Homo sapiens: one gene and its partner. The main gene of each other region encodes a partner of the protein of the gene in region 2 in a complex. Each region holds a gene or a part of one and is shown on either strand. Other genes may lie near its edges.

Region 1 (9,273 bases), on a different chromosome or scaffold from region 2:
AGGTGTGTGTCTTAGGGTGCGTGTGAGTGTGTATGTACGTCTTAGGGTGCATGTGGGCATGTGTGTCCGTGCAGATGTGTGTGCGGGATATGGCGCATATCTAAAACAGAGCAGCTCTGAGGCCTCAGGAGATTTTACAGCCATTTATTGTGCTCCAGTGAAATAGAAAAAAAAGAAAGTGCTCTCATTACAAACGCCACTGTCACATCCACATAGTATGCCAGTCGCTGCAAACCAAACCGCGTGTGTCCGCTGGGTCTCTGGGCATGCAGTTTGCTCCCACTGCGGGAATGGGGTGGGGGCAGGCCGAGCCTGGGCTCTGGGGGCTTTGCTGGGGGAGCTTCTGGTCCTGGGGGTACCCACTTGTGAGGGAGTGGGGGGACAGCTGGAATAGCGTTGCTCAGTGCGTCCTTTGGGCGCTGTTGGGGACACCCGGCTCTATGTTGGACCCTGTAGCACTACAGAGCGGAGGGTCCCCTTCCCCCCAATGGGCCCCCCGCCAGTCTGCTCTCTCCAAACTCTAACCCTGTAGAGGTTGAGTTCTACAGGGGCTGGAGGATGCCATGCAGGGAGAGGGGGTCGGCTGGGCCTGGCTGGGTCCAGCCAAGAGCAGCAGCAGCCTCCCTTGGGGGGAAAACAGGGAAGGCCTTGTGGCCCTAGGCGGAATTGTAGTAGTTGTGTGCGTGGTGGTTGTGGGCGGGCTCACCCAGCTCTGGGTACTCGGGAGTCAGACAGTACTTGGGGTCGTAGACCTGGCGTGGCAGCCCATACACCGTCATGCCCCGCTGCGAGGCGCCCTTGTTGCTGCCCATCTGCAGGCTGACATTGAGCGTGTCGCAGTGCTCCATGCCCAGCCCCGGCTCGAAGATCTGCCGCTTGGTCCCTGGCGCAGTCATGCCAGCCTGCGAAGGGTGGTGTGGTCAGGCCGTGGGGTGGCCAGGGTCCTGGGCCTTGACGGCGTGTCCCGGGGGCCCCCACTCACCTGGCTGGCTCCTTTGTTGGTGCCCATCTGCAGGCTGATGGTCGCCTGGTCCAGAGGCTGGTCTGTGCCCAGCTTGGGGTCGTAGAGGTGGCGCCGGGTGCCATAGGCCGTCATGCCCTGCTGGCTGGCAAACTTGTTGGTGCCCATCTAGGAAGCCAGAAGGAGAATCACACCAATAATTACAGACCTCATCATGGGCCATGAGGCATAGCTGATGGGAGAGGATGAGGCGCCGCTTTATCATTTTTTTCAATTTTTATTTTATTTTATTTATTTTTTTTTGAGACGGAGTCTTGCTCTGTTGCCCAGGCTGGAGTGCAGTGACATGATCTCAGCTCACTGAAATCTCCATCTTGCACATTCAAGCAATTCTCCTGCCTCAGCCTCCGGAGTAGCTGGGATCACAGGTGGGCATCACCATGCCCGGATAATTTTTTGTATTTTTAGTAGAAATGGGGTTTCACCATGTTGGCCACGCTGGTCTCGAACTCCTGACCTCAGGTGATCCACCCACCTCACCCTCCCAAAGTGCTGGGATTACAGGGGTGAGCCACTGTGCCTGGCCCATTTTTTAGTTTATTTTTATATTTTATTTTGTTCTATTCTATTTTTTTGTTTTATTTTATTTTATTTGAGATAGCATCTCACTCTGTCGCCCAGGTTGGAGTGCAGCGGCACAATCTTGGCCCACTGCAACCTCTGCCTCCTGAGTTCAAGCAATTCTCCTGCCTCAGCCTCCTGAGTAGCTGGGACTACAGGTGTGCCCCACCACACCGGCTAGTTTTTGTATTTTTGGTAGTGACAGGGTTTCACCACGTTGGCCAGGCTGGCCTTGAACTCTTGACTTTAAGTGATCCGCCTGCCTCGGCCTCCCGAAGTGCTAGGATTACTGGCATGAGCCACCATACCCAGCCCATTTTCATTTTTAGAGACAGGGTCTCACTCTGTCGCCCAGGCTGGAGTCCAGTGATGCAATCATTGTAACCTTGAACTCCTGGGCTCAAGTGATTCTCCCACTTCAGCCTCCTAAGTAGCTGGGACCACAGGCAGACACCACTGCATTTGGCTAAACTCTTAAATTTGTTGTAGAGATGGCGGTGGAGGGGGGTTCTATTTTGCCCAGGCTGGTCTGAAACACCTGACCTCAAGCAATCCTCCTGCCTCAGCCTCCCCAAGTGCTGGAATTACAGGTGTGAGCCACTGCACCCCGCCTGAGGCATCCTTTCGAGACTGGAAACTGAGGCCCAGAGTGGGCCTATCACATGACTGACTTCTAGCATTGAAGTTCCAGCCTGCCACGCATCAGCTGGAAGATCTGTGCAAAAGCGAGCCAGCTTCTCCGGGTCTCAGTTTTCTCATCTGCGGAAAGGGTATGTTGATAACAAGCACCTGTCTGCTGGGGTGTTGGCAGAGTGAGTGAGTTTGTGAATGGAAGATGAGCATAAGCACAGTACCCGGCCTATAGTATAGTTAATGCCAAATATCCTGTCCCCAAAAGCCTTCAGACATCAGGGTGCCCTCCTGGCCTCTATGACCTCTGCGCAGTGAGGACAGGGCGGTACCTGCAGCCCAATGATGTTCCGCCCTTCTCTTAGCTTCCCCGGCTCGAATTTCCGCTCCTGCTTCTCTGCGTACTTCACTCCCACGTTCACCTTGTTTCCTTTCGTCTTCGCCTAGGTGGGGCAGGGAAAGCAGGGACTGACAAGGGGGCCTCCAGGCTGCACAGTCCCCTTGGACACTGTTTTTTTGTTGTTGTTGACACAGAGTCTCGCTCTGTTGCCCAGGCTGGAGTGCAGTGGCGTGATCTCAGCTCACTGCAAGCTCCGCCTCCCGGCTTCACACCATTCTCCTGCATCAGTCTCCCTAGTAGCTGGGACTACAAGCGCCTGCCACCATGCCCGGCTAATTTTGTTTTGTAGTTTTAGTAGAGACAGGGTTTCACCATGTTAGCCAGGATGGTCTCAATCTCCTGACCTTGTGATCCACCTGTCTCGGCCTCCCAAAGTGCTGGGATTACAGGCGTGAGCCACCGTGCCCGGCCAACACTGTTTTTTGTTTTTTGTTTTTTTTTTTTTGAGACGGAGTCTTGGCTCTGTCACCCAGGCTGGGCAGTGGCACGATCTCGGCTCACTGCAGACTCCGCCTCCCGGGTTCAAGCGATTCTCCTGCCTCAGCCTCCTGAGTAGCTGGGATTACAGGCATGCGTCACCACGTCCAGCTAATTTTTGTATTTTTAGTAGAGACGGGATTTCACCATGTTGGCCAGACTGGTCTCAAACTCCCGGCCTCAAGCAATCCGCTCACCTTGGCCTCCCAAAGTGCTGGGATTACAGGTGTGAGCGACCGCGCCCGGCCCCCTTGGACGCTGTTGACAGCACCTGCTCCCCGATCCCTGCCCCCCGCTCCGCCACCTTCACTGGGCTCAGGAGCACAAGTGGCCACACCTGCATCCCAGCCCAGGCTGCCCACCACCCCCTGCCCAGCCTGCAACCACACTCACCATGCTGGCCAAAGCCAGGAGGGTGGACTGCACCTGTGTATGGTTGGTGTTCTCAAACAGGTCGTTGGCCTCAAAAATGTCGTGGGGCTTCACCCCATACTTGGTGATGGCCTTGATGAAGTTGCCGATGTTCTCCAGCTAGAGGGGGGCAGGTGGTGGTCACTGGGTGGGGAGGGGAGGTCTGAGGGGCTTGCGGGCAAGGATGGAAGAGATTGTGTCTGGGCTCACCTGGTGCCAATTTTGGGTTGACTCATTGATCTTCTTCACGGAGCCTGGCTGCAGCTTATTGATGAATCTGAGAAGAGTGGGGAAGGGGTAAGAAAGGTGTCCCCCCAGGGTTGGGCACGGTGGCTCACGCCTGTAATCCCAGCACTTTGGGAGGCCAAGGCGGGTGGATCACGAGGTCAGGAGAGCGAGACTATCCTGGCCAACATGGTGAAACCCCATCTCTACTAAAAATACAAAAATTAGCCAGGCGTGGTGGCACATGCCTGTACTCCCAGCTACTCAGGAGGCTGAGGCAATCACTTGAACCCAGGAGGCGGAGGTTGCAGTGAGCTGAGATTGCAGCACTGCATTCCAGCTTGGGGACAGAGCGAGACTCCGTCTCAAAAAAAAAAAAAAAAGAAAGAAAGGTGTCCCCCACTCCCGCTCTCCAGCCCAGCCCAGCAGGAGGAGGGTGACGGGATGACCACAAGGGGCCATGCCATACCCTAGCGTCACTTCTCCCTGCAGTCAGCTCTCAGCTGCAGCCCCTCCAAACCACCCAAGCACACACACAAATGGGACACTGATGCCAAGGAGCTAGACTCAGGTCCCAGTCAGAAAGCCTGCTTATCCAAGGTGTGTCCGAGTCTCTGGGATCTCCGAAGCCTCACTGGCAGGCGTGTCTCAGCATCCTTTTCTCTTGTAGACAGCAGGAAGCCCACAAGGGCCTCTTCTCTGACTCACTCCTTTAATGATCTCGCCTCTTTTTTCTTTTCTTTTCTTTTTTTTTTCTTTTTGATGCAGGGTGTGGCTTTGTCGCCCAGGCTGGAGAGCAGTGGTGCAATCACAGCTCACTGCAGCCTCAACTTCCCAGGCTCCAGCGATCCTCCCACCTCAGCCTTCCGAGTAGCTGGGATCACAGGTGCGCACCACCATGCCTGGCTTTTTTTTTTTTTTTTTTTTTGGTAGAGAGGGGGTTTCACTGTATTTGTATTGCCCAAGCTGGTCTTGAACTCCTGGGCTCAAGCGATCCTCCTGCCTCAGCCTCCCAAAGCGCTGGGATTACAGGCATGAGTGACAGCACCTGGCCTCATTCAGTGTCTTGACTTTAAGTGCCTCCATATGCCAGCAACTCCCTCATCTCCCTGCAGCTTGGGTTTCTTACCATCTCATTCAGCTCTCTCCATGGGTGCCTGGGTGTCTCAAATCAAACTCACCCTGCTCCAGACTCCTGACATGCAGCTTCCCCCTCCAGACTCCCCCCTCCCTCCACCTTCCCTGCCTAGCAGTGCCCCCTTCTAGGTGCTCAGCCAGAGCCCTTGGACTTGCCCCCAACTCCCCCTTTCTCCTTCTCTCAGCCTCATGTCCAGTCCCTCCAAAGTTCTTTGGCTCTGCCTTTTAATGAGTCCAGAAAACCACCCACTGCTCCCCGCCACCTCCACCTGGGTCTCAGCCACCAGAGTCTGTTTCCTGGCCTCTTGTAATGAGCTCCCAACTTCCACTTCATCCCCTACAGACCCACCCTTCTTCATCCAGCAGCCAGAATTTTTTTTTTTTTTTCCGAGATGGAGTCTTGCTCTGTCACTCAGGCTGGAAGGCAGTGGCGGGATCTCGGCTCACTGCAACCTCTGTCTCCTGGGTTCAAGCAATTCTCCTGCCTCAGCCTCCTAAGTAGTTGGGATTACAGGTGCCTGCTACCATGCCCAGCTAAATTTTGTGTATTTTTAGTAGAGACGCGGTTTCACCATGTTGGTCAGGTTGGTTTCGAACTCCTGACCTCAAGTGATATGCCCACCTCAGCCTCCCAAAGTGCTGGGATTACAGGCATGAGCCACTGCCCCTGGCCCAGAATGGCCTTTTTTAAACAGTTCAAGTTACCGTCCAGTTCCAAATCCTCCAGGAGCCTCCCATTGCCTTCAGAATGAAATCCTAAGTCCTCTGCCTAAAATGCCCTCTGTAGAACTGGGCACAGTGGCTCACACCTGTAATCCCAGTGCTTTGGGAAGCCGAGACAGGAGGATGGCTTGAGCCTAGGAGTTTCAGATCAGCCTGGGCAACATGGTGAGACCCGTGTCTCTACAAAAAAAAAAAAAAAAAAAACCCGAAAACTTCACCGGGCGTGGTGATGTGTGCCTGTAGTTCCAGCTACTGAGGAGGCTGGGGCTGAAGAGGCTGGGGTGGGAGGATCAGTTGAGCCTAGGAAGTCGAGGCTGTAGTGAGCTATGATTGCACCGCTGTACTCCAGCCCGGGCACCAGAGCAAGACTCTGTCTCTAAATAAATAAATGAAATAAAATGCCCTCCACCATCTGACTCTCAGTTCACTCTGCGACTTCATCTCCACTTCTGCTCAATCATTTGGTGCTCGTCACGCCAGCCTCCTTCTTGTTTCTTGAACACCCCAAGCACGATCCTACCTCACGCCTTTGCACTGGTGGCCCCCTCTGCTTTGCCTCAGGTCCCCTGAGCCCTCCCTCACTTCATCTAAGGTTCTGTTCAAATGTCACCTCTTCAGAGAGGCCTCCCAGACCACTCTCTAGGAAACTGCAGACTCTCCACCCGCAGACATATACCTGACCCTCCCATCTTCCCTTCCGCTTGAGTTTTCCCCAGGACACTTACGACCACAAATCTGTGATTATTTGATCAATTATATGATTGATCTCCTCAACTGGACTAAAAGTCCTTGAGCTCTGAGTCGAGTCTGTTCTGTTCACTGTTCCCAGTGCCTAGGCCAGAGCCTGGCACACAGCAGGAACTCATAAATGCTTCTTTTGTGAATGAATGAATGAATGAATGAGTGAATGACCGGAGTGCGTGGGTGACTGCACTACACTCTTTTTTTTTTTCTTATACTTTAACTTCTGGGGTACATGTGCACTATGTGCAGGTTTGATACATAGGTATACATGTGCCATTTTGGTTTGCTGCACCCATCAACTCGTCATTTACATTAGGTCTTTTTTTTTTTTTTTTTTTTTGAGACGGAGTCTCGCTCTGTCACCCAAGCTGGAGTGCAGTGGTGGGATCTCGGCTCACTGCAAGCTCCGCCTCCCGGGTTCACGCTATTCTCCTGCCTCAGCCTCCCGAGTAGCTGGGACTACAAGCGCCTGCCACCACGCCCGGCTAATTTTTTGTATTTTTTTTAGTAGAGACAGGGTTTCACCGTGTTAGCCAGGATGGTCTTGATCTCCTGACCTCGTGATCCGCCTGCCTCAGCCTCCCAAAGTGCTGGGATTACAGACGTGAGTCACCGCGCCCGGCCCACTCTTTTATTATTATTATTATTATTATTATTATACTTTAAGTTCTAGGGTACACATGCACAACGTGCAGGTTTGATACATAGGTATACATGTGCCATGTTGGTTTGCTGCACCCATCAACTTGTCGTTTACATTAGTTTTTTTTTTTTTGAGACAGGGTTTCACTGTTGCCCAGGCTGGAGTGCAGTGGCGCGATCATAGCTCACTGCAGCCTTGACCTCCAGGGCTCAAGCGATCCTCCCACCTCAGCCTTCCGAGTAGCTGGGACCACAGGCGCATGCCACCATGCCAAGCTAATTAAAACAAAAATGTTTTGTAGAGATGGAATCTGGCTATGTTGCCCAGGCTGGGACTGCACTGTTTGACGTCTGAGCAGTCCTCTGCCTGAGCTGGGACACCAGCATGCCTACCTCCCCACCTGCCAATTCCTTGTTCCTAGTGGATGGGAATGGAACAAGGTAAACACCCCCCACACCCCTTCTTCCCAGCATCTAGGACTTGATGAAGCTGCACCTTCAAAGTCTTCCCGAGGCCACTCACAGTCACTCTGCCCTGGGTCAGACTCAAATGCAGATCGGGCGCAGGCTGGGTTTAGGGCCCTGCTATGCATTAAGATTGCAGTGGAGCCGGGCGCGGTGGCTCACGCCTATAATCCCAGCACTTTGGGAGGCCGAGGTGGGTGGATCACAAGGTCAGGGGTTCGAGACCAGCCTGACCAACATGGTGAAACCCCGTCTCTACTAAAAATACAAAAATTAGCTGGGCGTGGTGGCGGGCACCTGTAATCCCAGCTACTCAGGAGGCTGAGGCAGGAGAATTGCTTGAACCTGGGAGGCAGAGCTTGCAGTGAGCCAAGATCATGCCACTGCACTCCAGCCTGGGTCACAAAGCAAGATTCCATCTGAAAAAAAAAAAAAAGATTGCAGTGGAACTGGGGCTTGGGAGCTGTTAGGGTTTTCACCTCCCTCAGCAATGAGGTTTTGAGGCGAGGAGAAAACCAGGGCCGGCAGGGTGCAGTGGTTCATGCCTGTAATGCCAGCACTTTGTGAGACTAAGGCGGGTGGATCACTTGAGGTCAGGAGTTCGAGACCAGCCAGGCCAACATGGCAAAATCCCGTCTCTACTAAAAATACAAAAGTTATCCGGGCAAGGTGGTGGGCACCTGTAATCCCAGCTGCTCAGGAGGCTGAGACACAAGAATCACTTGAACCCGGAAAGCAGAGGTTGCAGTGAGCTGAGATCATGTCACTGCACTCCAGCCCGGGTGACAGAGGAAGACTCCATCTCAAAAAAAAGAAGAAGAAGAAGAAGGTCGGGCGAGGTGGCTCATGCCTGTAATCCCAGCAATTTGGGAGGCCGAGGCAGGTGGATCACTTGAGGTCAGGAGTTTGAGACCAGCCCGGTCAACATGGTGAAACACTGTCTCTACTAAAAAAAAAAAAAAAAAATACAAAAATTAGCCAGGCGTGGTGGCATGTGCCTGCAATCCCAGCACTTTGGGAGGCCAAGGCAGGTGGATCACTTGAAGTCAGGAGTTCAAGACCAGCCTAGTCAACATGGTGAAACTCCATCTCTACTGAAAAAAAAAAAAAAAAAACAAAAATTAACCGGGCATGGTGGCACGTGCCTGTAATCCCAGCACTTTGGGAGGCTGAGGTAGGTGGATCAATTGAGGTCAGGAGTTCGTAACCATCCTGGCCAACATGGTGAAACCCCATCTCTACTTTAAAAAAATACAAAAATTAGCCAGGCATGGTGGTGCGTGCCTGTAATCCCAGCTATTGGGGAGGCTGAGGCAGGAGAATCACTTAAACCCTGGAGGCGGAGGTTGCAGTGAGCCGAGATTGTGTCTCTGCACTGCAGCCTGGGCAACAGAACAAGACTGTATCTCAAAAAAACAAAAAGAAAACAGAAAGAAAACCAGGGCCTCCTTTAATTATTGCTGCACATCTCTCCTCACATCACCAAGCCAGCCATGAACAGCTGTTGGCTGCTGCCTTTTAGCTGTGACCGCTCTTTCTGGGGACTCTGGCGGCCACAGATGGGCCTACCCTATATAGCATGGTGGTTAAGATTCTAGAGTCATTTCCCTTGAAACCACGTGGGACTTGGTGCAATGCATTTCACCTGAGCCTCAGTTTTCTGTGCCTGTTAAATGGGCACAATGATTACTGGCCACCCCAAAGGTATCCAATAGAAAGTGTTCAACTCAGTTCCAGGATCATGGTTGTTTTGGGGGTTGAGGGGCTGCATGGAGTTGGGGGATGTTGCAGGGTCTCGGCTTCGAGAGCCTCACTCACTCGCAAAGAATGATGCCAT
Region 2 (9,273 bases):
GGTTAATTTTGGACTTCCTTTGAGCAAAGATGCTTGGCGATATCATCTTTATTGTGAAATGAGGAGGAACAGCACATTTTTGACTTGGACATAATGCCACCCTCCTCCCCACACGTTTTCACACAGCTCCCCCTCCTTGCCTTCTTGTCCCATTAGCTGCTAATCAGATCGTCCTCAGAAATGCAGCATGTCCCCATCATCAGATAATTTATTCTCTTGCAAAAAGCACTTCTCTGGGAGCATAGAAAATTGTATTATGCTTTCGTTTTCAGGCAGTCCCAAAGGAAGTCACCAACTCAGAAGTTTCATCTTTAAGCAAGGCCCTTCATGGCCTCCCAGAAACAGCAGCTGTAAATCTGAAGTTCAGAGGAGTGATTCTCTAGTATAATACAACGTTGCTCATTCTCCATTCCCCCCGCCGCAACACACATACACACACAAAAATAAACCTACTCGCTTTTTCAGACATGTCTGCTAAATAACCTTTTCCCCAACCAGGTACAATATCTACAAAGTTATTTCTCAAAAAAAGATGCCCGCACTGACATTTGGTCTCATGGCTTCTATTCTTCAAGGCCAAAGTAAGAGAAGCCAACCAAAAGCTCAATATTTCCAAGGCAAAGAGCTGCAGATTTGGTGAGTGGAGGGCATTTAGCTAAAACTCTTTAATTTACGGGTAGAAAAAACAAACCTGAGGCCTAGTGATTTCTTGGAGGTCACACAGCTGATGAGTGCCCAAAGATAGACCACAGGGCTCCAGATACCAAGGCCAGTGTTTTTTGGTTTTGGGAGGGGGCGAGAGGGGGAGGGTGCTTATTTTGTTAAAAAGTTGAAGTCAGTCCCAGCCTGAAGAGACACCCCTCTGCCCACATAGCCCAAACCTCAAAAAACCAGCAAATGAAGTTAGGTCAATATCCTCAGAGAGAGACAAAAGTCTCACCAAGCCAGAAAAATTCACTCAAGGACAGGGTTTCTTAACCGGTTCACTACTGACATTCTAGGGCAGAGAGGTCTCCGTTGCGTGTGTGTGTGGTGGGGCAGGGGAGTGGGGGGCTATCCTGTGCACCATAGGATCTGTTCACAAAATGCCAGTAGCACCCCACCCCTGCCTGCCAGATAGAACAACCAAAAATATCTCCAGACGATACCAAATGTCCCCTGGAGGACACAAATCACTCTCCCTGTCCCCATTGAGACCACTGCTCTAGGACATAGATAGGTTTTGCTTTGTTTTTTTATCTGTAACGCCTTCTGCAAACATTTGTTTTTAGACAACTCGGCAGCAATGACCCGAAGCAGGTATTTTTATTTTTACACCTATTCTACAGAAGAGGAAACAGATGCACAGATGTTCCATGTTTTGCCCCTTACCCAAGAAGCAGTCAACACTCGGTACTGCGGAGTCCCCATCCTGTGGCTCACCAGGGCAATACCAATATGACCTGAAAGCAGCTTGGTTTCACTACCTGATTTTTCCACTCCCTTTTATGAATACTCAACAGTTTCCCAAGACAAATGTCCTGCAGAGATTTGTACTGAACAACACCTCAAAAGCTATCAAAAGGAAATGCTTAATATCTCTACATGGTCCTCACGTCACCCTCTGCAATAAAGGGCTTTTCTTTTTTTCTTTTTATTGAGATGGAGTCTCACTCTGCCCCCCAGGCTGGAGTGCAGTGGTGCGATCTCAGCTCACTGCAACCTCCACCTCCTGAATTCAAGCAATTCTCCTGCCTCAGCCTCCCAAGTAGCTGGGACTACAGGTGCCCACCATCATGCCCAGCTAATTTTTTTTGTAATTTTAGTAGAGATGGGGTTTCACCATGTTGGCCAGGCTGGTCTCAAACTCCTGACCTCAGGTGACCCACCCACCTTGGCATCCCAAAGTGCTAGGATTACAGGCGTGAGCCACGATGCCTGGCTGTAAGGCTTTTCAAAGAAAGATGCCAGTTCAAGAAATATTTAATCAGGAGAGGGGTACAGGGGCCAGGCGCAGTGGATCACGCCTGTAATCCCAGCACTTCGGGAGGCCAAGGTGGGCAGGTCATGAGGTCAAGAGATCGAGACAATCCTGGCCAACATGGTGAAATCCCATCTCTACTAAAAATATAAAAATTAGCTAGGCATGGTGGCACATGCCTGTAGACCCAGCTACTCAGGAGGCTGAGGCAGGAGAATCGCTTGAACCTGGCAGGCGGAGGTTGCAGTGAGCTGAGATCAGGCCACTGCACTCCAGCCTGGTGACAGAGCGAGATTCCTTCTCAAAAAAAAAAAAAGGAGAGAGGGGTACAAAAAATTAGTTTTTCCAAGCAGCCTTCAAAGGGAGAAAAAACATATATACAAATTACTTATTGTGTAAGCACTTCCTGTGTGCCAGGTATTCTTATGAGTTAAAAAAACACAAAAGGCCCAAAAGGAAAATAGGTTTTAGGGCCCTGGAGTTTCAAATGACAGATTTTCAAGTATCATAAAAAACTTCCCGGAGGAGGAAGCGTTTGGGCTGGGCCCTAAGGAATAGAAGGATCTGGCGAGGTGGACAGACGGGGGTGGGGAGGGACACATGAGGTACAACATACACACACACGACAAGGCAAACAAATGAATGTCCGTCGTCTGGGTGTCGTATCAGCTTTTTCTGTTCAGAAATATGTGCTTGGGATGCTTTTAAGCTGTTCTTGCAAAAGAAAATCATTTCCCAGACAAAGCTCCTTCTGAAATGCAAAAGAACAGCAAGAAACTTGGAGACTAGTGATATTTTTCTTATGTTCATCTTCTTCTGATAAGCCGCATTATATCAAGCCATCCAGAAGTTCTGCTGATGGGACAGGTCAGAAAGTATGATAAAACATAAGTTCCTCATTGTCCCATGACAGCAGGTGAACAGCAGTGACTTCACAACTCTAAGTAGGGGTACATGTGCCTTCTGGTCTCTTTCTGCCTTCATGTGAACAGCGAATAAAAGCTCCCCCAAATGTAAGCATCAAAGTTCCCATGTTTGTTGGAGAGGGAATCATGTGAAAACTACTTACTCTCACCTCAGGTTGGTGATTAGCCTACCTTTCCACTTCACTGAAAATAAGGCTGCAGGGGAAAAGTACAAAGGTCAGCTTCAGCCTGAACAGGTGAGAGCTAGCCATGAAAAAGCAAAGGAACCACTAAATGACAAGGACTGAAAAAGCACAGGGACAGGCATCCTCCAATGCATATCTTCTCGTATTTTCACGTGTGTGTGAATCACTTGAGGATCTTGCAAAAATGTAGGTTCTCATTCATTGAATGTGGAGTAGGGTCTGAGAGTCTGCAATTGCTAGCAAGTTCCCAGTTAATGTCAGTAACGCTGGTCTGGGGACCACACTTGGAGTGGCAAAGATGTAGTACAGTGTTTCTCAAACTTTTGACTGCAGCTCAGAGTAAGAAAACTATTGAACTTACAACCCAATGTTCATTGTGTATGTGAGACAAAGAATTTTGTTGCAACATACACAGTTCTTTTTAAGTATCCACGAAATACACTTCCATGTTTTCTATTCTAGTGCATGTCATTAAAAAAAAAAAAAGTTTGGCTGGGCCCGGTGACTCACACCTCCAGTCCCAGCACTTTGGGAGGCCAAGGCGAGAGGATCGTTTGAGCCTAGAAGTTCAAGGCCAACCTGGACAATACAGGGAGACCCAATCTCTACAAAAAAAAATTTTTTTTTTAAATTAGCCAGGAGTGGTGGGGCACGCTGGTGGTCCCAACTACTCAGGAGACCGAGGTGAGAGGATCGCTTGTGCCTGGGAGGTTGAGGCTGCAGTGAGCCAACATCATGTCACTGTACTCCAGCCTTGGCAACAGAGCAAGACCCTGTTTCAAAAACTAAAAATAAAAAGTTCATCAAGGCCCACTAAATTGATTTAACAACCTCTTAGTGGGTTTCCACAGAGTTTGAAAAACACGGATACAGAACAAGAGTAACATTCCTGCTCATCTGGGGAGAACAATGATGTCTTAGCCTCAGGACACTAAGGCTAAACCCAAAACCAATTTTTAAAAAAAGTTTAGATTATATTCAGAATTCTTTGCAAAAAGGCAAGGATAGGTCAATTGCATTTTGGAAATACTTTCACCTAGGAAATTCAAGTTTTAAGTTTTCTTCATTTTAATTTGTCTTCTCGTCTGTAAGATGAGGATGACAAGAGTACCTACTTGGCCCTAGGTGGAGATCTCTAAATACCATTTTGGCCAGGCATGATGGTCTCACGCCTGTAATCCCAACACTTTGGGAGGTCAAGGTGAGAACACTGCTTGAGCCTAGGTGTTTGAGAGCATCCTGGACAACATGGCGAGATCCCGTCCCTACAAAAAAACAAAAAAGATTAGCCAGGTGTGGTGGTGAATGCCCATAGTCCCAGCTACTCAGGAGGATTAGGTGAGAGGGTAGCTTGAGCCCAAGAGGCAGAAGTTGCAGTGAGCTGAAATCATGCCACTGCACTCCAGCCTGGGCAGCAGAGTAAGACTCTGTCTCAAAAAAACAAAACAAACAAAATTTCCCTCTTAAAAGAGCAAAGGCTCCTTGGAGAAAAGGCCGATTCTTGGTCTGGGATAAGAAATAGAGAAGATGAGCCTGGAACATCTTGTTATACAGAAATCAAAAAAGCTAGCAAAGACAACAAGGGCTGTGTCGAAATCTCAGGAACTTTACCAGCCCATTTCTCACTGACGAGAGAACTAATGGATTCAGGTAGTGAGCATCAAGGGGTGCTCATATAACAAGAGTAGACATCCAACATCTCACACCCACCTAAGCAAAGTTTACAGAGCAGACTTACTGGAGTCCCAGCTACTGGGAAGGCTGGCACAGGAAGACTGCTTGAGACCAGGAGTCCAAGGCCAGCCGAGGCAACATAGTGAGACCCCTTCTCAATTTAAAAAAGAAAAGAACCTAACTTTGATGAAGCCTCTACATCTAACTACCAAATTATGGTACCCCAAGGGGATACAGAAACATGTTAAACCACATTGCACTGATGCAGTCAGCAAAGTCTAAACTGTGGAGACGTGTATCACCCAGTTTCTTCGATAACAACAAAAAAAATGCATGGAAAAAAGATCTGTAGAGGAAATACAGAGATTAGTGAACATCAACCATTTGTAATGTATTTACCTTATTTGGATCCTAATTCAAACTGTTAAATACGTGTATGTGTAAAATTATTATATTATGTATTTTTTACAAATATCTATTTATATATGTATATATATCAGGGAAGTATAAACCTAGACTCAATAAAAATGAAAGGCCATCAAAGGGGTAGGCACATTTAGAAAAATGAGACACAGATGTCTGTTTATTAAAAAGATGTTCAAGATGTACAAAAGGTAATTTACCAAATGAGAGATACTGTGTTAGTCCCTTTTTATGAAATTTAAATATATACGTAAATTTTACATATGCATACTTAGAGGAAAAGCCTGAAACCCTAATCTCTAATAGTTGAATTGTTTTGTTTTGTTTCATTGCTCCTCTTTATTTCCTAATGTTGCACTACAATGAATATGCTATCTTTTTCTCCTTAAAAAAATTTTTTTAACAGAGATGGGGTCTTGCTGGAGTACAGTAGCTATCACAGATGCAATCATAGTATATTACAGCCTCAAACCCCCGGGCTCAAGTAATTCTCCTGCCTCCGTCCCCTGAGTAGCCGAGTCCAAGGTGTGTGCTACATGAATATGTATATCTTATGTAATAAGTAACAAAATTTGAGGTTTGCTTTAAGTTTGCACATGTGCAGGGGTCCACTTCACTTATTAAGGAGAATCACTGATGTGAAGCTTCTAATTCCTCAAGGATGCTGGAGAGCAGAATATTAGTCCTCCTTGTAAATATCTCTTAAAACGACACTGGATACAACGCAGGGTGGCGGTAAGACATAGGTTTGTGTTGAAACTCCAGGATTATCATTATGTTCTTACAATTTGCTCTCCAAGTCAACTGTACGTTCACCTATTTGTCAAACTTTCCTTTTCTACTGAAGTGAATTACAACTCCAGGTAAGTCCTGTCATTAACCAGACAGTCCAGAAATCTGGGTTTTACCCCCTATCGAGTTCCCATCTGGTATGTGATCCTGCCAACCTTACCAGAGTCTCTTCAGAAAGGACAATGTAGTTTTGTGATGTTGAAAACCACACTGAGAATTCCGTGAGAGTTTACAAGTCCTCAGATAAACCACTGTTGACCTGCAAAATCTGGTCCCTACAGGTCTGGACCTTGACTCCCTCTCCCTCCTGAACTCCTAGCACTCTCCCCTGGCCTTCTTCTCCTTCCTCCAACATGTCACAAACACTCCTATCTCAGGGCCTCTGTACTTGCTGCTCTGACATTTGGAACACACTTTTTCCCTGACAGCTACAGGGTCAACTCGTTTGCCTCCTTCAGATCTGTGCTGAGATGTCATGTAGTAAAGATCTAATCCCCACCTGAGTACTCCCTTAATACCCCTCATCATGTTTTGTTGCTTTTTAAAATTACTGTAAAATATACATAACATAAAATATACCACTTTGAAATGTTATAACTCAGTGGCACTAAGTACATTCACACTGTTGTGTGACATCACCACCATCCATTTCCAGAACTTTTTCATCTTTCCAAACTGAAACTCTATCCTCAATAAACACTAACTCCCCCTTCCTGTCTTCTATCTCCCCCAGCAATCCCCATTCTACTTTCTGTCTGCAGGGATCTGACTACTCTAGATGCCTCTATAAGAAAAATCATAAAATATGTGTCCTTTTATTTCTGGCTTGTTTCACTTAGCATGTTTTCAAGGTTCATCCACATTGTAGCATGTGTCAGAATTCCCTTTTTAAGGCTGAATAATATTCCATTGTATGTATATTTCACATTTTATCTGTTCATTCATCAGTAGACTTGTGTTGTTTCTACCTTTTGGCTACTGTGATAATGCTTCTACTGACACAGGTGTACAAATATCTGCTCACGTCCCTACTTTCAATTTTTTAAAGTATATACCTTGAAGTGGAATTGCTGGGACATATAGTAATTTTATGTTTAATTTTTTTTAGTAACTGCCATGCTGTTTTCCACAGCAGCTTCACCATTTTACATTCCCACCGGCAATGCACAAGGGATCTAATTTCTCCACTTGTTATTTTCTGTTCCCCCTTTAACCAGTTTTCTTTTTCTCCATAGCTTTTACTACCTCTAATACTATAATACTTACTTGTTTATTTATATTGGCTGCCTCCCACCAACTGAGATGTAAGCCTCTTGGGAACGGGATGGTTTGTTCATTGCTATATCCTGAGCACCTGGAATACATCTTAGTACATAGCAGGTGCTCAAGAAATTTGTTGAATAAAGAATAAAACATTTGAATCGCACACAACTTGAACAGGTCTTAGAGTCTGTTAAATAGATTTACCACACCATGTGCCTTAAACTACATCCAATTTAGAAATCTCAAAGTTGAATGGGTGACGGTTTCAGTGGTGTATCTGGCTTATTCTCATTAGCAATCATCTCAGAACCACAGAAACCAAGAGAATTGTAAGGAATCATAGAAGTTATGTCATTCACATCACCGACTTCAAGCCTTAATTGCATTCATCAATTGAGCTATGCACAAACTTAAAACAGCAAAAATGGAAAAAAAAAAAACTGCATGGACTTCTGGTTAACAGACAGCCTGCAAATGCAATGTGTTTTATTTTTAAAAATCAAACCAATAGTAAACAAGATAGACACTGGCCCTGTGGAGACTCCTTAATTAGATGTAGCCAAAGACAGCTTGACCTAGAAACCTAACTCCAGGCCTACTTTTATTTTGGCTGTTTTTTTCTGTTGTTCATATTTGGTGTTTGTTTTATTTTTGTTTGTTTTCTAAGAGCTGCTCATGAAGAAATCAGACAGTTTCCATGATATCTTTATAAATGAGTTGAAAAGCCATGTGATATTCCCCCCTCTGGAAGTCAGTTGGTTGCACACCATTGGATTAAAGGTTTCTTTTTTATCTTTCTCTCTGCCCACTCTCCTCCCTCCCCGCAATACCAACACCCTGATCTTCCTCACTTAAAAATATTTTGAAGAAAAGACTCTTGATCTTTCTGTGGAGTTCATCTATCTCTTTTTTTCTAAGCAACCATTCCACTTCTCATTCCTAAAGAAAAGATGCCAATTCCCTCCAAAAGACAATCACTTGGTTTAAATAGATACCATTGTCAACCCCAAATGACTTTCATGGGTCTCAAGGCAAGAGCCAGAGTAATTCACTTAGAACATGAAGAACTTTCCCTGCCTGATAAGAATGATATCTTGAAAGGATTTTCTGTTCTGATTTGAATTATTCAAAGAGCAGATTGTACTTTCAGTGTACATATGCATACACACACACACACACACACATGAACTTGAAAGAAAAAATGGAGAACAAAAACGTCTGCACAACTGGCTGCAAAGCAAACTGGAAGGTATATGAAAAGGTATCAACATTTCACATTGCAGTCTAACTGCAGTTTAAACTTTCGAATTATTCAGATGGGGAAACGCCTGATCCTTTTAACCTACTCAGATTCTTTGATGTAAACAATCAAGATGTATTTCAGCTAGGAGGTGAGCCTAATGCTTAACTTACATAATGTTCCTTGTGGTTTTGTTTCTTTTTACTCTCCCCATTCAGGCTTTCCAAAATGAACTCATTACAGTATCTAATACCTCCTCAAATATCTGCACTCTTTTATCCCTATGTTTGTGGCTACATCCTTTCCTTCTTACATCAATGTTATGTATTATTTCATCATTGGTGGGAGGTATGCAAGTTATTTCATCAGTAGCAGTAAGTTTACCATTTTTCCTAGCTTCCCTCTCACCACCAGCATCCCCAAATCAACTGAGGTCCATTTGTGGGATGCAGTACAGCCTCACCGCCTGAGGTTACACCCTGCTCCTACTTTGTACTAGCTACTGGGCAAGTGATTTCACTCTCTGCACCTCAGTTTCTTCACCTGCATCTGACGCACAGGGTTTCTGAGATACATGGCTCTGGACCTGGCTTACAAGTACTTAATGTGTCCATCTTATTATTTTTAGCAACCAGTTAGAAAAGAGTCTGTGGACCAGTTTTTCCTTGCTGTACAGCTAATTCTGAAAAGGGGAACTGGGCCTAATCCTTGGCTCTATGAGCACCCACACAGCCATGTGAGTCAACAGAACTCCAAGAAGAAACTAGAGTTCTCACATCCAAATGCTTCTCACTCCGCCAGTACTCCTGA

What was found.
Region 1: ITPR1 (region 2) and CNN1 share a complex: the UniProt entries of both Homo sapiens proteins name them as parts of the cGMP kinase signaling complex.

Annotation. Positions count from the first base shown.
Region 1 is NC_000019.10:11,541,179-11,550,451, reverse strand, and holds the end of CNN1 (calponin-1), read right to left. Parts: coding exon 9,255-9,273; intron 3,778-9,254; coding exon 3,711-3,777; intron 3,621-3,710; coding exon 3,483-3,620; intron 2,656-3,482; coding exon 2,545-2,655; intron 1,130-2,544; coding exon 983-1,129; intron 903-982; coding exon 657-902; 3' UTR 129-656; downstream 1-128. UniProt on the Homo sapiens protein: Thin filament-associated protein that is implicated in the regulation and modulation of smooth muscle contraction. It is capable of binding to actin, calmodulin and tropomyosin. The interaction of calponin with actin inhibits the actomyosin Mg-ATPase activity.
Region 2 is NC_000003.12:4,495,450-4,504,722, reverse strand, and holds part of ITPR1 (inositol 1,4,5-trisphosphate-gated calcium channel ITPR1), read right to left. Parts: intron 1-9,273. UniProt on the Homo sapiens protein: Inositol 1,4,5-trisphosphate-gated calcium channel that, upon inositol 1,4,5-trisphosphate binding, mediates calcium release from the endoplasmic reticulum (ER).